Linked DNA regions of Homo sapiens. The protein of the gene in region 2 interacts with the protein of the main gene of each other region in a biochemical or structural test. Each region holds a gene or a part of one and is shown on either strand. Other genes may lie near its edges.

Region 1 (7,611 bases), on a different chromosome or scaffold from region 2:
GTGAAGGAGTCTTGATTTCCCTGAAAAACCTGAAAGAGGAAAGATAGCATTTATTGGTTGTCTGACAGGACAATGGTCACTGCAAAGCACAGACGCTTTTCTCACTTCTAGTTGTTTCCAGTAGTCCAGGATTAAACCCTGGAAGATGACTAGATGACTCTGTCCTACGCATCTGGGACATCTAGAATTAAGAGCACCCTGCTTTGGAGGCCTTCACTCTAGCTAGGCCTTATATCTACAGTGTTCTCACCCACTTCCCAAACCTCAGTGACATTAAGTGCTTTGTCCTGGGTCACACACAGCATCTGTGTTGGACCATCTGGAGATGAGAGTCAGGCTTTGGCCAGCAGACTCCCTTGTCAATGCATTTGCTGTGGCAAGAGGAGTACATGGCAAGAGCTCAGAAAATGGTAGCTATCGTTATTAGATAAACTGGTTTCGCACATGTTGGTGACAACTTTAGAATGATAACGAATGCAACACAGCAAGGCATGCAATTTAGTGTGGCTGGGCAACCTTGGCAGGAGGGGATGCAGAAGAGAGAAAGAAGTGGGAAGAGTCTAAGACTCAAGGCACCTTGCTACTCCAGGACTTTGGAGCAAAGGTCACCTATAACTGGGTGGATGTTTGGGAAAATGAAGATCTGAATGTTCAAAACGTGTAATTCAAGGCAACTCTGAAACCCTGTGGGTTTTGTGTGGATTCCGAGGTAATCCTACAGTAGAAAGTCCAGCCAAATGGTGAGAATAAGCAAGAGTCTTGGAGAAAAAGGAACAGAATGAAGGCAATGTCCTACCATAATGCATGCTCTTGCAAGGACAGACAGACACCATGATATCTTTAGGATCTCCTGAGGCAGTTTGTGTAAAAGGAGGCAACTTGCCACCAAAATGGGAAAGAAGTGGTTAAACAGCAACAGTAGGGCTCCTGCTTCCTGGAGCTATTGGGTGACATTTTCCTCTAACAATCCTGGCATCTTCAAGTGTGGTGTCAGTTTTACTTCGGATTCCAAATGGGAAGAGACTTTTCCTGGCAAATGCACTGTGAAGTAACACTGTGATCCTACAGAGAGTTTAGCTATCAGAACAAAAGACGTTTGGGCCATCTTCATTCATCTAGCTACATTTTCCCCCTAGGTTCCCAACCCTGGCTGCTTATTGGAATCGCCTTTGGAGCTTTTAAAAAATGATGCATGGGTAAGTTCCCCACCCCCCCACCCCCCCAAGAGATGCCAATTTAATCGGTCTGTTCCCACCTTGGCCCCCTTACTCTGGTCTCCAAGTTCTGCCTAATATAGCCCCTGCCCAAGTCTCTGATCTGTTCTCCCACTGCATTCCTCCTATTTTACCGCATCGCAGATGAGCTGATCTTTCAGTTTCTCAACAATGTCAACTCTTGTTTTATTTAACATGAGAGCCTTTGTATATGTGATTCCCTCTGCTTGGAAGGCTCTTACCCCTTCTGTTTCTTCTTTTATCCATGTTTTTTACCCTTCGGGTCTCAGTTTAAATACCACCTCTTAAACTAAGCATAGTGGCATGCCCCTGGAGTCCCAGCTACTCAGCAGGCTGAGGCAGGAGGATTGCTTGAGCCCAGGAGTTTGAGACAAGCCTAGGCAACATAGCGAAATTCTGCCTCAATTTTTTTTTTTTTTTTTGAGACGGAGTCTCGCTCTGTCGCCCAGGCTGGAGTGCAGTGGCACCATCTCGGCTCACTGCAAGCTCCGCCTCCCGGGTTCACGCCATTCTCCTGCCTCAGCCTCCCAAGTAGCTGGGACTACAGGTGCCCGCCACCATGCCCGGCTCATTTTTTGTATTTTTAGTAGAGATGGGGTTTCACTGTGTTAGCCAGGATGGTCTTGATCTCCTGACCTCGTGATCCACCCGCCTCGGCCTCCCAAAGTGCTGAGCTACCTCTTTAGAAAGGTCTTCCTCATTATTCCTCTTGTAAAATAGGACTCTTTTTTGTTCTAAATCTCAACTTATTTGTTTCCTTTGTAGCATTCAGTATCTTTTCCTTTATCTCTTTACATGCTTATTGACTGTTTCCTCTGTCTCCGCCACCAAATGTCAGTTCCACAAGGGCAAAGACCTTGGTCATTGTTGTATCTTCAGCACATAGAATATATAGCATAATGTATATAGCATGGCAAATATACCATAAACATCTATAGAAATAAAGTTCTGTATTTGGAAAAATTTTTGAGAAACATTAAGGTCCCTGTTCTGAGATTATTTTACAAATGTTTACGCTGTATTTGGAGGCTTTGTACATCTTTTGTTAGACTTAATCCTTACTGCATTAAATCAGGGGGCATGCGATGCCAGATTGTCCCATTATTGATGATGCTAAGTTTGATCACTTGGTTAAGATGTCCACCTAATCTCTATATTTATAAAGGTAACCCTTTCCCTTTCCTAACAATCTGTGGAGTGAGACTTTGAGACCATGCAAATATTCTGTTTCACAACAAGCTTTTATCCAATGGTATTAGCAACCCTTAAAGTTCTTTACAAGTATTCAATAGTAAGTACATTGATGGTTGCAAACTGATTTTCCAGTTATGATCCATTACCCTCATTATTCCTTTTGATGCTCAAATTGTCTCAAATCTGGCCAACAGGAAGCCCTTCAGACCAGTTTCTGTGTTCTTTTCACATGATCCCATTAATCTTCTGGCACATCAAGATCACCAAGATCATCTAAGATTGCCTGGCAGTTTCCTTGATCCAGCCTTGAAAAAGTCATTTCTCTAGGGAGCTCAGATTCTTTTGACTGGAAAATGGTAGTTAGAGACCAAGATTTGGGCATGGGATGGGCTCGTTATTACTGCAGTGTAATTACTTCTAGATTCCCTCAGTGAACAGTGCTAAGAATATGATTTTTTAAATTCCTAAGTTCTCACTGACACTTCTAATTCAACTCTAACATTCTTTTTGTTAGTATTAGATTTCTAGGGCTACTGTAACAAATTCACCACACACTTGGTGCCTTTAAAACAAAAGAAATTTATTCACTTATCGTTCTAGAGGCTTAAAGTCTGGAGCCTGGAGCAGAGGCACAAAAGAGTGTGTCAAACACAAAATCACATTTAAAGCTTCTATTTGGAAGTGGTATATATGTCATGTCCAATCACATTCTATTGATCAAGATGAGCCGTACGGCCATGCCTAAAGTTGATGAGGTTTTCAAGGAAAGAGGGAATAAAAACTCAAGAACATTAATACCATCTGCTTCATATGCTATTTTCTGTTCATTTAGAAATTCCTTACATTTTCTTGTTTCAGCAATAAGAGGTGATTTATGCAGGCAGACATGAGGGCTGGGTGGCTTACTAGGTTTCTTAGCCAGGAGTACCCTCTACTGTTGATAAATGGAAGTGTAATTTATTTAATAGATGTGACCAAAGAGGTTTGTGGGTCTTGTGATTTAGTAATTCACTTTTGTTTTTATAGGACAGTTAATTTCCAACATTTGCTTTCTTCTTTTTTTTTTTTTTTTTTTTTTTGAGACAGGGTTTCTCTCTGGAGCAAGGTTGGCTAGATTTATATATTTATTTTCTACTTGTAAATATAAACTTATAGTACTTTTTGTCTTCTGGTTATTCTATAGATGGGTTATGGGTGGTTTTAGTCATAATTTAAAATTGTGTGTGTATGTGTATGTATGGTTTTTGAAGACTGTGGAGAGATTTAGGCAGCTGCCATTATCTGACAGGAATGTGCAACTCCTGCTTGGAATTTTTAAATGCTATTTAAAACTATTTTTCCAACTGTTTCAGGTATACAGAAATACAATTAATTTTGGTATTTATTTTGTTTTCAGCAAGCTTGAAAAATTTTAAAAATTCTAATAATTTATATATAAATTCCTTTGGATTTTCTATCTATGCCATCATATCTTCCACATACAATGAGTTTGTTTCATCATATTCAATCCTTACATATTTTCCTTCTTTTTCTCATCTTATTGCACTGCTTAGGACAGCCAATATGTATAATCCTTCAGTCTGTCACTGTGATAAATTATATCAGTTTTCTAATGTATAAGCCAAACTTGCATTCCTAGCATAAATCCAATTTGGATCCATATTGCTAATATTTTGTTTGGGATTTATGTTTATGAATAAAACGGGCCTATTATCTTCCTTTCTAATATTGTTCTTGTTCGGTTTGGTTGTCAAGGTTATGCTATTATCATAAGATAATTGAATAACATTCCATCTTTTTCCATTTTCTGAAAGAATTTTTGCAAGGTTAATATTATTTCTCCTTTGAAAAATTGGTAGAATATAGTTAGTGTAGCCATCTGGATCTGGATTTTTTAAATTAATAACCTTTTAACACTAAGTTTGGAAAATTAGGTAAAATGGATTAATCCCTGGTAAATACAACAAGAAAGAACATTTAATATTAATAAGTATCCTCATTTTTTATATTTTTATATTGGCAGAAATTTTTGTGGGATCTTTATTGATGTCCAGTTTTTTAAAGTTTCTGATATTATTTGTGCCTTCTTTTCATCTTGATTGCTCTTGCCAGAAGTTTGTCAATTTTCAAGGAACCAACTTTTGGTTTTCTTTATTCTCTCTATTGTATGTTTCTTTTTTACTTCATTTACTTCATATCTTTATTATTTCCTTGCTTCTACTTCCTTTTGGTTTATTTTGCTGTTTCACTAGCTTCTTGAGACATACCTTAGCTCATTAATTGTCAGGCTTTCTTCTCTTCCAATATATGTTTTTAACGCTATACATTTCTTTCTAAATATTGCTTTAGCTGATTCCCACATTTTAATATGTCATGCCTTGTTATCATTCAGTTTAAAATATTTTCTAATTTATGATTTCTTATTTGACACATGGGTTTAAAAGTATAGTTCTTGATTCTAACATAGGAAGATTTTATAGTTATCTTTCTTATTTATATCAACTTTAATTGTATTGTGACCAGAAAACATGTTTTATATTATCTGAAATTTGAGACTACTTTATTTGTAGCTTATTTGTAGCTTAAAATGGAAAATTCTAACATGTTTCCTTTGTGTGCTTACAAAGAATGTGTAATTTTGCAATTTCTTTTTTTTTATTATACTGTAAGTTCTAGGGTACATGTGCACAACGTGCAGGTTTGTTACATATGTATACATGTGCCATGTTGGTGTGCTGCACCCATTAACTCGTCATTTACATTAGGTATATCTCCTAATGCTATCCCTCCCCTGTCCACCCACCCCATGACAGGCCCCGGTGTGTGATGTTCCCCTACCTGTGTCCAAGTGTTCTTATTGTTCAATTCCCACCTACGAGTGAGAACATGCGGTGTTTGGTTTTTTGTCCTTGTGATAGTTTTTGAGAATGATGGTTTCCAGCTTCATCCATGTCCCTACAAAGGACATGAACAGATCCTTTTTATGGCTGCATAGTATTCCATGGTGTATATGTGCCACATTTTCTTAATCCAGTCTATCATTGATGGACATTTGGGTTGGTTCCAAGTCTTTGCTATTGTGAATAGTGCCGCAATAAACATACGTGTGCATGTGTCTTTATAGCAGCATGATTTATAATCCTTTGGGTACATACCCAGTAATGGGATGGCTGGGTCAAATGGTATTTCTAGTTCTAGATCCTTGAGGAATCGCCACACTGTCTTCCACAATTGTTGAACTAGTTTACAGTCCCACCAACAGTGTAAAAGCGTTCCTATTTCTCCACATCCTCTCCAGCACCTGTTGTTTCCTGACTTTTTAATGATCGCCATTCTAACTGGTGTGAGATGGTATCTCACTGTGGTTTTGATTTGCATTTCTCTGATGGCCAGTGATGATGAGCATTTTTTCATGTATCTGTTGGCTGCATAAATGTCTTCTTTTGAGAAGTGTCTGTTTATATCCTTCACCCACTTTTTGATGGGGTCTTTTTTTCTTGTAAGTTTGTTTGAGTTCTTCGTAGATTCTGGATATTAGCCCTTTGTCAGATGAATAGATTGCAAACATTTTCTCCCAATTTGTAGCTCGCCTGTTCACTGGGATGGTAGTTTCTTTTGCTGTGCGGAAGCTCTTTAGTTTCATTAGATCCCATTTGTCAATTTTGGCTTTTGTTGCCATTGCTTTTGGTGTTTTAGACATGAAGTTCTTGCCCATGCCTATGTCCTGAATGGTATTGCCTAGGTTTTCTTCTAGGGTTTTTATGGTTTTAGGTCTAACATTTAAGTCTTTAATCCATCTTGAATTAATTTTTGTATAAGGTGTAAGGAAGGGATCCAGTTTCAGCTTTCTACATATGGCTAGCCAGTTTTCCCAGCACCATTTATTCAATAGGGAATCCTTTCCCCATTTCTTGTTTTTGTCAGGTTTGTCAAAGATCAGATGGTTGTAGATGTGTGGTATTACTTCTGAGGGCTCTGTTCTGTTCCATTGGTCTATATCTCTGTTTTGGTACCAGTACCATGCTGTTTTGGTTACTGTAGCCGTGTAGTATAGTTTGAAGTCAGGTAGCGTGATGCCTCCAGCTTTGTTCTTTTGGCTTAGGATTGACTTGGCAATGCGGGCTCTTTTTTGGTTCCAAATGAACTTTAAAATAGTTTTTTAGAATTCTGTAAAGAAAGTCATTGGTAGCATGATGGGGATGGCATTGAATCTATAAAATACCTTGGGCAGTATGGCCATTTTCACAATATTGATTCTTCCTACCCATGAGCATGGAATGTTCTTCCATTTGTTTGTATCCCCTTTTATTTCATTGAGCAGTGGTTTGTAGTTCTCCTTGAAGAGGTCCTTCATATCCCTTGTAAGTTGGATTCCTAGGTATTTTATTCTCTTTGAAGCAATTGTGAATGGGAGTTCACTCATGATTTGGCTCTCTGTTTGTCTGTTGTTGGTGTATAAGAATGCTTGTGATTTTTGCACATTGATTTTGTATCCTGAGACTTTGCTGAAGTTGCTTATCAGCATAAGGAGATTTTGGGCTGAGACAATGGTGTTTTCTAGATATACAATCATGTCGTCTGCGAACAGGGACAATTTGACTTCCTCTTTTCCTAATTGAATACCCTTTATTTCTTTCTCCTGCCTGATTGCCCTGGCCAGAACTTCCAACACTATGTTGAATAGGAGTGGTGAGAGAGGGCATCCCTGTCTTGTGCCAGTTTTCAAAGGGAATGCTTCCAGTTTTTGCCCATTCAGTATGATATTGGCTGTGGGTTTGTCATAAATAGCTCTTATTATTTTGAGATACGTCCCATCAATACCTAATTTATTGAGAGTTTTTAGCATGAAGTGTTGTTGAATTTTGTCAAAGGCCTTTTCTGCATCTATTGAGATAATCATGTGGTTTTTGTCTTTGGTTCTGTTTATATGCTGGATTACGTTTATTGATTTTCGTATGTTGAACCAGCCTTGCATCCCAGAGATGAAGCCCACTTGATCATGGTGGATAAGCTTTTTGATGTGCTGCTGGATTTGGTTTGCCAGTATTTTATTGAGGATTTTTGCATCAATGTTCATCAGGGATATTGGTCTAAAATTCTCTTTTTTTGTTGTTTCTCTGCCAGGCTTTGGTATCAGGATGATGCTGGCCTCATAAAATGAGTTAGGGAGGATTCCATCTTT
Region 2 (8,222 bases):
TATGATATATCAATTAAAAATTACTTATTTCACAATGATTACATATAAACATTCTTTTTTTTTTGGAGACAGAGTCTCACTCTTTTTCCCAGGCTGGAGTGCAGTGGCGTGATCTCAGCTCACTGCAACCTCTGCCTCCTGAGTTCAAGCGATTCTCCTGAATCAAGCCTCCCGAGTTGTAGCTGGGACTACAGGTATACACCACCATGCTCGGCTAATTTTTTGTATTTTTTTTTCAGTAGAGATGTTTCACCATGTTGCCCAGGCTGGTCTCGAACTCCTGAGCTCAGGCAATTCCAAAGTGCTAGGATTACAGGCATGTGCCACCGTACCCGGTCTATATATTTTTTTTCTTCTGGATGGGAGTTACAGGATTATAATGAAAAACAGTGACATTATATGTGGCTAAGTGGAAGAACATCTTGTCAAAGGAAAATGATTTTCCTTATTCACATTTACCCTTTCAAGGGCTCCGTGTGGTATTTGGGCTTTGCTGTATGTTACATCATATTAAATGAGGAAGACTTCATTCAGATTATGAACTAATATTTTTAGTAATCCAACTATTCTGGAAACATATTAATTCAACAAATATCTATTGAGTGAGTGCTGGGGAAAACAAAGCAATGATAGAGATATATACCTCCTAGAGCTTGCATGTTAGTGGGATAGACAATTAACCTAGTAATTAAGAAAGAGAATGTGAAGGATTATGACAAGAGATTCACAAAACAAGGGTTCCTATTCTGATTTCAAAACTAACTGCTGATGTCAGTGTATTTCTCTAGTATCGAACTATCCAACTCTCCTATGTATATAGATCATATTTATCCTTTGGAGTGATGATGGCAACTGTACCCAGATTTTCCCTAAATTATTACAGTAAATTTGTTGAATTTTCAAACGTGTGCTTGGAAATATGACCACTCTGAGATTTGAGCATTGGTGAATGTGCAAGGGAGAAGGAAGCACTGTTAAAGAGCAAACTGGGAAAATCCATGATAATCCTTAACACCACAATCCAGAATTCTCTTCTAGGAAGAACGGGAAGATGGTACTCCATTTGCATGTTTCTTGCCTGCATTACAAAAAAGTTTGTTTTGTTTTGCCTAGGTTATATAGATCATTGAGAAAGGGAATGGAAATAGTATTACACAAGATAGTTTTGAATATTACCTGGACTGTGTTAATAATAATTCCTTCTGATGCACTTTAGGAGTGCATTGATCATGCTTCTGTTTCATTATTTTAAATAGATAATGTATCCAGTGCTGAGGGTTGGCATGTAAATGTGACCTTGAATATTCGTCCATCCACGGGCACTGGTGTTATGCTTGCCTTGGTTTCTGGTAACAACACAGTGCCCTTTGCTGTGTCCTTGGTGGACTCCACCTCTGAAAAATCACAGGTAACTTAACTCTAAACCTATATAAGCCTTGTTTTTCTTTTCATTTTTTAAAATGTATACATAGCAGTATTTACCTCAAAGGACTATTTTGAAGATTAAATAAAGTAACTTATGTAAAGTGTTTGGCACAATCTCCAGCACATCATTAAGGACTCAAAAAATGTCTATTATTGTTACTTTTTTTCTGGCTTGTTTCCAAGGTCTGAATGAAGAAGTAAGGGGAGGGAGGAATGAAAAACCTACTGCATCTATACCTAAGATTAGGCAGACTCTCACACAGGCTGCTTGGAGCCATCCGAGTACATAGAGATCCACCCTTATTAAGAATACTTTATGTGTTGTGGGAATTAGTCTGTACTGTCAACATAGAAGTGAGTCTAATTACAGTGCACTGTCAGATATTCAGTGCTTAATTATAATGTTTTGTTCTTTCTTACACTCTTAATCTTTTCTCCCAAGAGTAAGTTAGGAAAAAAGAGAGAAAGTTAAAACTGGTCCACTTGGTTTCTTACTGGCAACTCTTATTTGAAATTAGGAGGAAGAACACGAAAAAGCCTTAGATGAAAGGAAATATGAGGGTTATCAGAAAATCTGTATTATTCAGACTTCTATTAGAGCATAGTCGTTCTGTCTATGTGTCATCCACAGTGCATTCTAACAAGTTACAGCAAGAAGCTGATGTTTATGCCAAGGCTGACTTGGATGCTTTCAGTAGATTTTAGAAAGAGACCTGTGGTTGAATAATGTCTATTGTAGTAAAACAAGTTATGCTGTTTGCAACTTAAAGTATGATTCAGGGAGGAGGATGGGAAGTTTCTGGTGGTTAACCATAAGTAACCTAAAAATATCCTGATGAGTTTTTTTTTGTTTTTGTTTTTGTTTTAATCTCCTGCCTTTAAGGAGCTTTCTACATTTGGATTTCAGGGGTTTTTTGTTTGCTAGTTTGTTTTTCTTTTTAAACAAAATGGAATTCTTATCTTAAACACTACATTCATGCAGTGGAGGAGGTTAACGCATGCCATGTCTTTGATATTTAATTTATCCTTTGAGTGTTTGCCTCCGTGGTTCTTTCTTTGCATGTCAGATTTCCTTCTCAAGGTCTATGCAATATTTCATAACATTATTCCAGATATCATTGATCATTTTGGAGCATTTTCTTTATTGACAATCTCTTTTAATGAGTTTAAGGATACGGACATGTACAACACAATAACAGATTTCCTCAAGTAACCTATATTTGCAAAGTTAGTCTTTTCACTTAAAATAGGTATCTTGGATTCCTAAATAAACATTTCTGATTATGTTTTTATCACTTTCCTCTATGCCATATAAGCTATATGAAGAGATCACACTCAACACATTGAGTAATTTAGGCATAACGGCAGTTTGAAAGGTTCAGCAGAATGAACACATTTTCTTTCTGTAGAATCTTCTGGTAAATGTTCTATAACGTGCTGGTGGCAATCCCTGGTTTTTCTTTCTCAGGGCCTCTTCATTTATTTTATCCCAAGTCTGTAGGATTGCTTGTGTGGCACAAAGAAACCTGTTAGTCCTGCTGGCATATGCTTACTAAAGCATTTTAAATTTCCCAAGTCTTTTCTCAACAAAGAGTGATTCAACTCCTTCCCTTTTCATATGTAAACTTGGAAATTAGGAAGGCTCATAAACAGAAAGATATAAGACACTCCTATAGGTTCCGGTTGTTTTACGGAATTTTCAGAAACCAGTATACATTTATATTTTAGCTAAACTTTGAGTTTGTAAAACTAATGTGTATTTTAAATTTTAGTCATAATTATTATAAATTAGTCTTATAATAATTAGTGATTTTTCCCTTAAATTTAGAGGCTCTATCATACATTTTCTTTCCTTATTGAAATTTAGTTTTTGACTTTCAAAAACTCAAAAGTCACTCTTAAGCAGCATTACTCTTACTCCTTGCTTATATTGAATCTTTGCTCTGCTCTTCAGGATATTCTGTTATCTGTTGAAAATACTGTAATATATCGGATACAGGCCCTAAGTCTATGTTCCGATCAACAATCTCATCTGGAATTTAGAGTCAACAGAAACAATCTGGAGTTGTCGACACCACTTAAAATAGAAACCATCTCCCATGAAGACCTTCAAAGACAACTTGCCGTCTTGGACAAAGCAATGAAAGCAAAAGTGGCCACATACCTGGGTGGCCTTCCAGGTATCTGCTTACTTTTTCTTCAGTTTTAAAAAGTATATTTTAATCAAACCGATAATATTTTAAATATATAATTATAGTAAAAAAGCATCAGAAGGGAACATAAAATCCAGTATTCATTATTCTTTTTCTAGGGGCTAGTACCGACATTTTATTGGCATATTTTTGTTTTGTTTTGTTTAGTTTAAAAATGTTGAACTAAGGCTGATCAAGTTTTGCTTCATTTGGCTATCCCAGCCAGAAAGGATATGTTATTTTATTTCATCATCACAATAGTCTTATAAGTTCAATATTTGTTCTAATTTACCCAATATTTATTCATCTATTATTCAGTTCATCTTATCATTTATCCAGCTTTTTTTTTTTTTTTTTTTTTTTTTGAGATGGAGTCTGGCTCTGTCGCCCAGGCTGGAGTGCAGTGGCACGATCTCGGCTCACTGCAAGCTCCGCCTCCTGGGTTCACGCCATTCTCCTGCCTCAACCTCCCGAGTAGCTGGGACTACAGGTGCCCGCCACCACACCCGGCTAATCTTTTTGTATTTTTAGTAGAGAGGGGGTTTCACCGTGTTAACCAGGATGGTCTTGATCTCCTGACCTTGCGATCCGCTCGCCTCGGCCTCCCAAAGTGCTGGGATTACAGGCGTGAGCAGTGACAATAGTTGTAGTATCTAACTACCATCAACTATTGCAAAACAAACAGTCTGGGCACTGTTTAACGTGCTTCAAATATATCCACTTGTTTAATTTTCAAAATAGTCCAGTGAGGTAAGTGCTATTATTATCCCCATTTTACAGATGAGGAAACTGAGGAAGCTGCAGGACCAGGGTGATAACAATGAAGATGATGGACAGTAAATAGATCGGAGATATGTGTTAGAAACAAAATTAATAGGATTTAATAACTGAAAGACAGGTATAAGGATGACTTTTAGGTATCTGGCATGAGCAGTTGCATGGATGGAGATTCCATTTACCAAGATGGGGAAAACTGGAGGAAAAACAGATTCATCTTTAACTGAATATTGGAAAATATGAAATTGGCACCAATATTTCACTTTAAATGGAAAATTAGAGGCAGAAAGTTATTTAGAAGCATTTTCAGATGACATTTGCAATTTATTCTCATGGGGAGAATTCTGAGTTTGATGTCTGGACCTCTGATAACCTTCAATATACTGCTTAAACTGCTCATGGTCTTGATTTCCCATATATGGAAATTGTATCTGGGGTTTTGGGAAATAGAAGTAAATAGGCTTTAAAAGCTATAGAAAGACAGACAGATAGATAGATGATAGATAGATAGATAGATAGATAGATAGATAGATAGATAGATAGATAGATAGAGGTAAGTAGTGAGCATGCCTAATTATTAGGGAGTAAAATTATAGTTTAAATGAATAAATTCTATATTGAAATCTACCTACTACCTTATCCACAAGTTAGTTGAATGCAATTTTAGGAAATCAAACCAACAAAGAGTTTAAAAGAAGTAGAATTATCAAAATTTCAGTGGTTTCGGGATTTTGGCAACAGCACTGAGGACTAACTTCAGGCAAAATGTCTTGAGAGAAAGAGTGGGGAAGATTTGAGAGGAGCTAAATATTGAGATATTAAGAGTATAAACTGTGAGATGGGTAAATTATTAATTACATGCAAAGTAGGCATGTAAAATTCCATGTGAAGTACTAAAACCCAAGAGAAATGAATGATTTTGAGTAATTTCTTTCCTCAAAATCGAATGAATTTGAGTAATTTCTTTTCTCAAAAAAGGAAAAGTGGCATAATCTATGATGTTTAGCCCAACTTGAAAGGGATTCTTAACAAATGCTATGAGCTCACAGTCATAGTAAAGTAGGAACTTTATTCACTGTGTTGGCAAGTTAGAAGTTGAAAATTTAAAGGTTTTTTTTTGGCATAAGGTACTGAAGATGAAGAATAAGGGCTAAAGAATATCCATTGTGAGTTAAGATTAATGGAGAGGAGAGGCCAAAAAAGAGGAAGGAAAATTGTTATTTTTAGGAACTCTAAATAGTACATGAAAGTGAATCCTGTATCATGACCTATTGTATGCTCAACAAAAAAATTGTTTCTTTGGAAAAATACAGAAATCTGCTTTTATTCCAACAATAATAAAAGAGATATATTGATCATGACATTTAAAAGAGATTCCCAAGTAGCTATAATTTGGAGTTAAGAAAATGATTTAACAATGCTTAAACTGTTGCTTAAGTTTAAAGAGAAAATAGTATGTTATTTGTATAATAAAAATAGAATATCACAAGAATATGCTTGTTTCTACTCTCCCTCAAATGTGTTTAAGTTTAAATGGAACTAATTGTGTTTATGAAATCTGAGGAACTCATGACATGCTGAATTCAATGAAGTACAGTAACATGTATATCGGCGTCACTTAACATGTATTTATGGAATAGAATTTCACTATTAACTTTTCCTTTAGGATTAGAATTTGGTTGGAAACAGGAAGTCTGAATGACTTCTCTCACTGTAAACAAACAAGATGCTAAAAGTCTTGGACTAATATTCTAATATTTTCCTTTTACAGATGTTCCATTCAGTGCCACACCAGTGAATGCCTTTTATAATGGCTGCATGGAAGTGAATATTAATGGTGTACAGTTGGATCTGGATGAAGCCATTTCTAAACATAATGATATTAGAGCTCACTCATGTCCATCAGTTTGGAAAAAGACAAAGAATTCTTAAGGCATCTTTTCTCTGCTTATAATACCTTTTCCTTGTGTGTAATTATACTTATGTTTCAATAACAGCTGAAGGGTTTTATTTACAATGTGCAGTCTTTGATTATTTTGTGGTCCTTTCCTGGGATTTTTAAAAGGTCCTTTGTCAAGGAAAAAAATTCTGTTGTGATATAAATCACAGTAAAGAAATTCTTACTTCTCTTGCTATCTAAGAATAGTGAAAAATAACAATTTTAAATTTGAATTTTTTTCCTACAAATGACAGTTTCAATTTTTGTTTGTAAAACTAAATTTTAATTTTATCATCATGAACTAGTGTCTAAATACCTATGTTTTTTTCAGAAAGCAAGGAAGTAAACTCAAACAAAAGTGCGTGTAATTAAATACTATTAATCATAGGCAGATACTATTTTGTTTATGTTTTTGTTTTTTTCCTGATGAAGGCAGAAGAGATGGTGGTCTATTAAATATGAATTGAATGGAGGGTCCTAATGCCTTATTTCAAAACAATTCCTCAGGGGGAACAGCTTTGGCTTCATCTTTCTCTTGTGTGGCTTCACATTTAAACCAGTATCTTTATTGAATTAGAAAACAAGTGGGACATATTTTCCTGAGAGCAGCACAGGAATCTTCTTCTTGGCAGCTGCAGTCTGTCAGGATGAGATATCAGATTAGGTTGGATAGGTGGGGAAATCTGAAGTGGGTACATTTTTTAAATTTTGCTGTGTGGGTCACACAAGGTCTACATTACAAAAGACAGAATTCAGGGATGGAAAGGAGAATGAACAAATGTGGGAGTTCATAGTTTTCCTTGAATCCAACTTTTAATTACCAGAGTAAGTTGCCAAAATGTGATTGTTGAAGTACAAAAGGAACTATGAAAACCAGAACAAATTTTAACAAAAGGACAACCACAGAGGGATATAGTGAATATCGTATCATTGTAATCAAAGAAGTAAGGAGGTAAGATTGCCACGTGCCTGCTGGTACTGTGATGCATTTCAAGTGGCAGTTTTATCACGTTTGAATCTACCATTCATAGCCAGATGTGTATCAGATGTTTCACTGACAGTTTTTAACAATAAATTCTTTTCACTGTATTTTATATCACTTATAATAAATCGGTGTATAATTTTAAAATGCATGTGAATATCTTTATTATATCAACTGTTTGAATAAAACAAAATTACATAATAGACATTTAACTCTTCATACAACGAAGTAGTTCTTCAGTTAAAAGACAGATAAAGCTCCAATATTTGAATAATATTTATGGTTGGGTGGTAGACTGGAGCTCAGAAGGTGAAGAGAAGCAAAAGTAACATGTATCTTTTGACACAAACCATAAATTGTCTTGCTAAATATAATTTGTTTCCCAATTGCCACCAGGTACTATGGGGGATGAATATCAGCAAGTGACTATTGATAATTACATTCATGTAAAAGAGCAAGGAAAAAGAAAAACAGAGAAAACATACATGAGAGAGGGAAAAAAAAGTGAAAGAAAGGGGCGGAGTTCCCTGCTTTTCATTTGATTATGCCACATACAGGTCAGATATAGGGATCAATTCTACCTTTCACATCAGGAGCAGAAACCTTCCCACATGCAATGATGCTCGTAGAGGCTCCAGAGACGCATTTATAAATTTCATCTACCTTTGAGATGTGCTCATACATGCCTAGAGAGAGGGTCTAGACCTATGGCTAAGAATCTTTGATTGATGTTTAGTTTTGAACTTTGCCAAGAAATATAGATTCCTACTTTTAAAGAGTTGGTAGAGAACAAGGCAAAGTGGATATTTGGTGCCATTTCAGCTTTGTATATAAGTAAAAAAAACTCCAAATAACAGGGCCATTACAGAGTCCCTTAGAATTCACCTTTTGAAAAAGCTTTCTTTTT
Region 3 (8,085 bases), on a different chromosome or scaffold from region 2:
AGTATTTTGGGGATCCTTGATGGTTTCTCTTGTACTTACTACTTTTGCAGATGGGAAAGGGAGGTGCCCAGGTGTGGTCCTCTAGACACTGGCTCCGATTGCTGCCCTTGAGGATGTAGTGGTCATTGCACATAAACGTGATTTTGTCACTTACATTCACAGGCCCTGAAGAACTGAACTCTCCATTCACCAGCACAGGATCAGGACAGTGGCCCACTGAAGAAGAAAATAAGCAATAAGCTGAAAGGGCAAAGCTGAAGCCCAACACAGCAAAGGCCAGACCTCCTCAGTCTTCAGTGAGAAAACAGCAAATTAGAGTTAATACTGCACATTTTTAATTGAGTGAAGTACATGGTACTACCATATCAATGCAGAATGAAAAAAAGAGGAGATTGACCTAAGTACAGCCCAAAAGAGCTTTGTCATGCACAAGAACAACATGAATTGGCAACTGAAAGTAATTAATCACGTAACTGAAAGTTACCAATCGTATGTTTATTGTACTGTTATATTAAGCATGGCTCAAAATAGTGAGACTATGTTTGAAGCAAGTATTTCCTTCCCTTTCAACCAGCCAAATATACACTTACTTAGCATTTTTTATTTTGTTGTGCTTTTTCCCATGGCATGGAAAAAAACAGGAGAGAATGCACAGGGATATATGAGTTTGGTTATATGAATGAAGGATAATAATATCGGTGTGCTCTACTCTAGGTATACAAGAGAACTAATGCAACTATTCTTTAAAAAATAATAGTAATAAATAGGATATGGATTAATTATTCCCCATCTCCACAGAGGATACCAGAAATGAGTTTTGTGACCTTGAGCAAGTCAGCTGGATCTCAATTATCACATTGGTAAACTGAGAATACAAACTATTCCCAGTTCAAAAGTTATATGATAGGTGAAATAAAATGATACAATGCACTTACTTCAAAATAATAAAGAGGATATACATGAAACAAGATTATCATGTGTGGATAATTGATGAAATTATGTGATGAGTCTATATGAGTGAATTTGACTCTTCTGTCGTTTGTATACATTTTAAATTTTCCATAACATAAACATTTTTAAAGCAATATAAGGTTAAACAAATTATAGCAAAAAAAAATTAGTTCTAATATCTGGAAGAAATTATTTCTTTCCCATAGAGGGAATTGATTCTGTTAATTCAACTGAATTAATACTGATCAAGATCTGATCATAGAGCTTCCAAGAGAAGCTCCTCCACTGGAGTGCTTTAAAAGAGGTCTCCTAGAAATTGAGAATTTTTGTTTTCTTATAAAGTTTTACCACAGCCTATAGGAAGTAGGATGTGAAGGAGTAAAACAGGATATCAATATGGGCAAAGATACAGAAAGATCTAACTTACAGCGGCACTCAGTAGTGGTGTTATCCCACTCCTTAGAGGCATTGCAAAAAAGGGTCTTCTTTCCTACCAGGTGGTAGCCCTTGATACAAACGTAAGTCCCCAGAATCTGTCCTTCCACCTCCTTTGCGACAAATATGCTATTGTCCACTGGAGGAAGCTCTGGACAGTGCTCTGCTGGAAGAAAAAAGAAAACAGATTCACTTGGCATATCATGTGCTGTCAGAGAACCCTTATTAGATTTCCCCATTCTCATGTCTTTTTGCTGGATTATTGATCCTGATTCCTGTGCTCTTCCCAAGTACTCTGTATTCTACTCCCAAGTAGCCGGGACTACAGGCACCCGCCACCACGCCCAGCTAATTTTTTGTATTTTCAGCAGAGACGGGGTTTCACTGTCTTAGCCAGGATGGTCTCGATCTCTTGACCTCGTGATCCGCCCACCTCGGCCTCTCAAAGTGCCGGGATTACAGGCTTGAGCCGCTGCGCCCGGCCGGAATTCCGAAGTTTTATTTTCAAAAGTATAACAGGAATTTTACTCAAATTCAACCACAAGTTGTCCACTTCTAAACAAATAGTCCCCTACACAAATAGCGATCCTGGAGTTTATAACAAGTAAGACCTCCCAGGATTTTGAAATTGGTACTCTTTTTGCTCCCAGAACAGAAAGGGAAAGTAAAAAAACAGTAACCACCCACTTCAGAGATCAGGGTTATCATTAAATGTACACTAAGCTCCTATTGAGTGCAGAGCATTAGGCCAATTTGAGATTTTTCAATAGAAGAATAAAGATATTATAAATGTAAACTTCCTTAAAGCCCTAGACAGAGTTCCTCAAAACACCGCAAAAGGACACCAAATGCCTGTAAGCTGAGTTGAAGGAAAGCATACGTACCATCTGAAGCAGAAACTCGCCACGCAACCATAAGACAGCACGCACACCAAAAAAACATCTGGTGATCAAAGTCCTCTCCCCAGGCTGGAATTCACCCAGCTCAGACACCTGGTTTGAAAAAAAATAGATCTTCTAACACTGCTTAAGACCAACCTAACCACCTCCTCTCTAGAGAAGAGGTTATATTGATTTACCCTCCCTGGAGAAAATGAAAAGAAAAAATCTTACGACAGGAAATCAGAACAGCTGTAAGGAAGCTGGTATAGGGAGGAACTGCAAAAATACAAAGGGATGGTAAAAGAGTTGCCAGGTTTAAAACTCAGTTTCAGAAATTTCCTGGTTTCTGGGAATGCAAATCCAGTTGACCAGTCTTTTTGAAACGCAGGCTTATCCTTCCCCAACAAACATGGGCCAAATGGTCTTGCCATGACCTTGACTTCTGTCAATAGTTGCCAATGTTTACAGTCCAACTTCTGTAACTCTGGCCAGCACTGGGGAAAGAGAACGGGCTGTCAATCCCTGGTTCTTGCCCAGGTAGAACACAATTTTGAATGCTACCTCATCCTCCTTTCCTGAATACCAGATATCCTAAGGCTGTAAGCAGCACTGAAGACGAAAGCTCAAGGAAGTAAACTAACCTTACCTGTCTCTGTCCCTCCAGAGTTAGGGCTTCCCAGCAAGGAACTGGTCTTAACTGACTCCAAAGCTGAGAGCTCCAAAGTCCTGCAGTGACACATTGTTCTCGCTTGCCAGGCCTGTACCCAGGCTTCCTACTTTGTGGCTCTTCCAGGGACAGGATTTGGCCTGAGTCCAGAGTTAACCAAATGAGTAAAGAGAGAGGTGAGGAGAATGCTTTGGTCTCAGGAATTAAGGCATGTAAAATTGTTTTGAGGGATCCCATATCATCTTGCTTGTGACTACTATAACCCTTGGTTGGTTCTCTGTGCTGTAATTATGAAACTGGGGAAAAATTCCTACAAAATTTCAGGTTTTAATAGAATAATAAAGCATTAAGGACACAGTAAGGTTGCAAATGTTCTTCTCTTCTCCATCCATTACTACTGTTTGTGATGATTAATCTATGTCTTTCTCCTGAAAGGAATCAGGATATGCCACCCCCAAATATTTGGCGTTAAGATTCTTTTAAGCTGAAGATATTTGAGATTCAGTGATATGGAAAGGAACAGAGATTTTGGGGGCTTTCCTTATCTGACTAAAGGCAGCAACCTTGGAGATAAGGTTGCCATAAATTCCTTTTCAGGGTAGGTCTATCCTGGAGGGGAGAGCATGAGTAAAACATATTTCAAATTCCTTCTCCAGAGAAATTTCATGGCCTTGAAGGAGACAGAAAGAACACTCGTACTTATATACACAAACATTATCACAAAACTTTCTAATTTCCTACTTTTCCCCTGAAAACCCACTTGCCTTTCCAAAAAATAATCTGTTTTCTTTTTTGTTTGAGATGGTGTCTTGGCATGATCTTGGCTCACTGCAACCTCCACCTGCCAGGTTCAGGCCATTCTTGTGCCTCAGTCTCCCGAGTAGCTGAGATTACAGGCATGCGCTACCACGCCTGGCTAATTTTTGTATTTTTAGTAGAGATGGGGTTTCACCATGTTGGCCAAACTGGTCTTGAACTCCTGACCTCAAATGATCCACCCGCCTTGGCCTCCCAAAGTGCTGGGATTATAGGCATGAGCCACCGCACCCGGCCAATAATCTGTTTTCTTGTAAGTGCCTTTCTTCTCCCCACCTTCACCTATTAAGATGATGTATAAGCCCCAATTCTAACCAACTTTTTGAATTACTTATCACTGAGTTTTCCCACATGTACTCAAGTTACATGTATAAATAGAATTTTCTCTCCTGTTAATCTGTCTTAGTCTAATTTGCAGGTCCCAGCCACTGAATACAATATGGTAGAGGAAAGGTGTTTTTTTCCTCCCCTTTATTCCCACAGGAAACTGCTAACTCCAGGACAGGGTTTGTGTCTGATTTGTATTTGTATTCCCTTCCACGGTGCTTCATATTGCAAAGCAGTTGTCTGTTAAATGAATGAAAGTAATGCAGAAATAAATGAAAAAAACTGTCATCCAGAAACTCTACCACAGCCCCCAAAATCCATATGATCACTTGCCATTTATCACATGCTGCCTTATGATTTTTTATGTCTTATCTTTTCTTAACTAATATGCAAATTCCTATAGTGTAAGCACCCTCTAAGACATGATTTTCAAAAAGTTAAAAATATGACACAAGTAAATATAAGATGAATATATATCAAAGATTTAATTCAACTCATTAATTAATGAGGAAACATTCAGATGCTACAACTGGTTCAAAGAAGAATTTGAGGAATAGGAATGCATATAGTCAGTCAGTCAAAAGCATTCTGAAGTGACCTTTCCAATAGATACAAAACTGGTTAATATCCTACAGAGTAACAAACTGTAATATTTGCAATTAGCTTTTCTACCTGGTGGAAAGTAATTAAAACAAAATGGACAAAATATATTTGCTCTACTATAACCAGGAATCATTTGCATTGTTCTCAGATAAGAGTCATTTGCATTCCTATAAATTTACTGCAAATTAACCTCTATGCTTAAAGAGTTCTAAAAGAACTTTAAATAAAGTCAGTCAGAGATCATCTCCAGAGGGCCTGCTAGAAAATGCCCAGGAATCCATTGAGCATTTACTCCAGTGATCTCTTTTTGCTAATCCTAAGCTTTGAATAATTTTTATTTACATACCCCATGTTCTACTTCTTGAGGAATGCATGTTCTTCAGTATCTTTTATAGATTTATATACAGAATGTTTGTACAATAAATTATTTTAAAAAGGAAGGAAAATCTAGTTTAGCCCTACATAAATATGGACATAAAATAGAACATGTATTACAGGAAATAATTGCAAGTAATTCTTCATCTTAATGGCTTACTTCAGATTCAGAACTATAGGACTTTAGAAACCATATCACTTATACTATTGTCTTACTAATATTTCTCCATAAAATATAAAAATACAAAAATATTCACACTAAGTGGGCTCTATAGAGACAATAAATAGCATCACAAAGTTTGGGTCAGGTTTTTTCTGTCAAATGAATTAGAAGAAAACTTTGTCTCAAAGGTTTTTGGATTTTAGAATTAGAGATTAAAGAAAGAAACAGAGAGTGATTGAGAGAGAGAAAGAGAGTAATATGGTGGGTCTTGGGGGAGAGGCAGAATCAGAGATAGATGCAGAGAGATAGAGATGCTTAGGAAGGGGTGTCTGGGGACTCTGAAGGACAAGTCTCCACCTGGCACTGCCATTGTCCCCCGCCCCAATCCCACTCTTCCCTCCTCAGCCCTCTCTCCCCACAGGATGAGCAAGAGCATCAGAGACAGAGATGGAGACAAAAGACAGACAGAGGAGACACTGACAGAGTGAATCAGAGAGAGACAGAGACAGAGGAATTTCTCCTCTTCTCTCTGCCTCCCTCCTCCTCTCCCCAACACCTCCCCCTTCACCACCTTCCTGCCTCCCTCTGCTCCCCTTCCAAGCCTGCATATTCTTCAGGGCTTACCCTCAGCTCCAGGACAGGGTCCTCCTGGGGCTCCTGATGGGTGAATATTTACACCACAAGAGTAAATAAAGATTACAGGCTTATATATTTTACTATTTGTATCCAAAATTAGGCGAATTAATAAATGAGCGTTAGCAGGCTCTTCTATTCCTTTGAACATTAAAAGATAGTTGGATCTATGCCAGATCGTTTCCTGGAGAACTGGGGTAATAGATCAGGTGAAACTGTTGTTCTCAGACTGGCTTCATTGCTTTACAATGGAATGGGCAAGCTGGGCATAGTGGTTCACACCTGTAATCTCAACACTTTGGGAGGCCGAGGCAGGTGGATGGCTTGAGCACAGGAGTTCAAGACCAGCATAGCAAGACCTCATCTCTATAAAAAATAAAATTTTATATATATTAGACAGGCATGGTGGCATGTGCCTGTAGTCCTAGATACTTGGGAGGCTGAGACAGGAGGATCACCTGAGTCCAGGAGATCAAGGCTTCAGTGAGCTGTAATTGCACCACTGCACTCCAGTGTAGGCAACAAAGCAAGAACCTGTTTCAAAAAAACAAATAACAACAAAACACAAAGAAATGGGCAGATGGTAGTTAAAGGAAGAGATCAGGAGGTGAGGAAGGAAGAGTAGAAATATAAAAGTCAGCAATGCCCAATCTGGGGGAAGAGTTGTGGGAAGTTATAAAAGGGGCACACACATTGCAGTGTGTGTAAGATTTTAAGAGAATTCAGGAAAGACTATTTTAAGAAGTTCTACAGGGTGTCATGAATGGATTCCCTTTGGTCTTTGTCAAGAGAATTCAGAAAAGATTTAAATTGCTCTTTTAATGTTTTTTACACGTTGGGTTGATGTTTCCCCAATGCCTGACCAAAACAACCTGGGCCAGAAAAGTGTGGGGGGCGCACAGCCACATACTCAAACTTATGTACAAGGCATTTGAGGTTGGGGCATGGAAAAATGCTGAGGCACTGTGTGTATGTTATTTGTGCATGAGAATATAATTCCTTGACCCTGAAAACAGGACAAGGAGTGGAGTGTGTGATAAGGAACGCTGAAAACAGCCTCCTGAGAATGCGGTTTGAGTGCTTTGACAAGGCCACAGGTGTCTCACAACCCGACCTCAAAAAGCCATCTGGTGGATGTTTGTGGTGTAACAAGCCCTTTCAATGAATACATGGTGGGCAGATATTGGGGCGGACTCTCCTCAGAAGAGCTGCTCCCTCCCCCGCTCAGCTGGAATTTTCTGAGAACTCATTCTTGGCGTTCACTGCAAGCTATAAGCTTTGCAAAAAGTAGCCTTAGGCAGATTCCATGGGAATGTAAATTTTAAAAAGAATTTGTAAAAATCAAATTGTGCATGAAACACTGTAGAATAAGCTTTAATTATGAGTTTAGATGGACCTGCACTGTGGCAAGATCAGAGTTGATGCATTGTTACTCTAAGTTTTAGGGGACAAGAATAAGTCACCTTAAAATATGCCTCTTTGGCATAAAGATTATTTTGAACTGCAGGCAAATGAGATGCAATGGAAGCAGAAAGAAGCCTTCCTGGAGTATCTCTTAGATGACTCTAAGCAGAAACTTCTGAGGAATGAGGACTGCTGTAAGTCCTTTCTCCGGAGGGAGATTTATGTCCACAAAGAAGTCAGTGTCAAGACAGACCTACACAAACCTTCTCCATTAGTTTCTTTCAGGTATTTGCCTTCTCAAAATTTGCAGCCCTAGAAACTTAACGTTTTTTCCTTTGTCTTGTCACTTCTCTACAAAGTTATTGCTCTTTTGTTAAGATGCTATATAAATCTAAGCTCTAACTCCCCTTTGAGTTACTCATCATGAGGTTCCTCCCAGGTGGGGTGTGCTTCACACATTAATAAATTGTTTGGGTTTCTTTTGTCAATCTGTTTTGTTAGTCTAATTTACAAAGTCCCAGGCAGAGAACCTAGGAGGGTAGAAGGAAAAATAATTTTTTCCTCTCTTACAAAGCAATGGCAGCCTAACTCCTCAAAGGCTACTGCTCACCTTGTTATAGCTCTTCAGACCTGCTACAATGTTTCAATTACCTACTAAGGCAGGTTGCTACTTCTTCAATAGCTATTGAACCCTTCTTTGGTAACTAAACCCTAATTATAACTGGCACAAAGCCACTTGGAATAAAAATATTCCAGCCTGCATGAAAGCTGTATGTAGCCACTTGACTACATTTTGACCAATGAGGTATAAGCATAAGTGTGCTTGCAAA

The links.
Region 1: the proteins of PROS1 (region 2) and F8 form a complex in vitro, tested with the Homo sapiens proteins (one study listed by BioGRID).
Region 3: the proteins of PROS1 (region 2) and C4BPB form a complex in vitro, tested with the Homo sapiens proteins (one study listed by BioGRID).

What each region holds. Positions count from the first base shown.
Region 1 is NC_000023.11:154,837,724-154,845,334, forward strand, and holds part of F8 (coagulation factor VIII isoform a preproprotein), read right to left. Parts: intron 30-7,611; coding exon 1-29. UniProt on the Homo sapiens protein: Factor VIII, along with calcium and phospholipid, acts as a cofactor for F9/factor IXa when it converts F10/factor X to the activated form, factor Xa.
Region 2 is NC_000003.12:93,872,349-93,880,570, reverse strand, and holds the end of PROS1 (vitamin K-dependent protein S isoform 2 preproprotein), read left to right. Parts: intron 1-1,256; coding exon 1,257-1,408; intron 1,409-3,379; coding exon 3,380-3,605; intron 3,606-6,165; coding exon 6,166-6,326; 3' UTR 6,327-7,520; downstream 7,521-8,222. UniProt on the Homo sapiens protein: Anticoagulant plasma protein; it is a cofactor to activated protein C in the degradation of coagulation factors Va and VIIIa. It helps to prevent coagulation and stimulating fibrinolysis.
Region 3 is NC_000001.11:207,083,775-207,091,859, reverse strand, and holds the start of C4BPB (C4b-binding protein beta chain isoform 1 precursor), read right to left. Parts: upstream 3,001-8,085; 5' UTR 2,914-3,000; intron 2,762-2,913; exon of another isoform or gene 2,379-2,761; 5' UTR 2,329-2,378; coding exon 2,271-2,328; intron 1,553-2,270; coding exon 1,379-1,552; intron 217-1,378; coding exon 40-216; intron 1-39. UniProt on the Homo sapiens protein: Controls the classical pathway of complement activation. It binds as a cofactor to C3b/C4b inactivator (C3bINA), which then hydrolyzes the complement fragment C4b.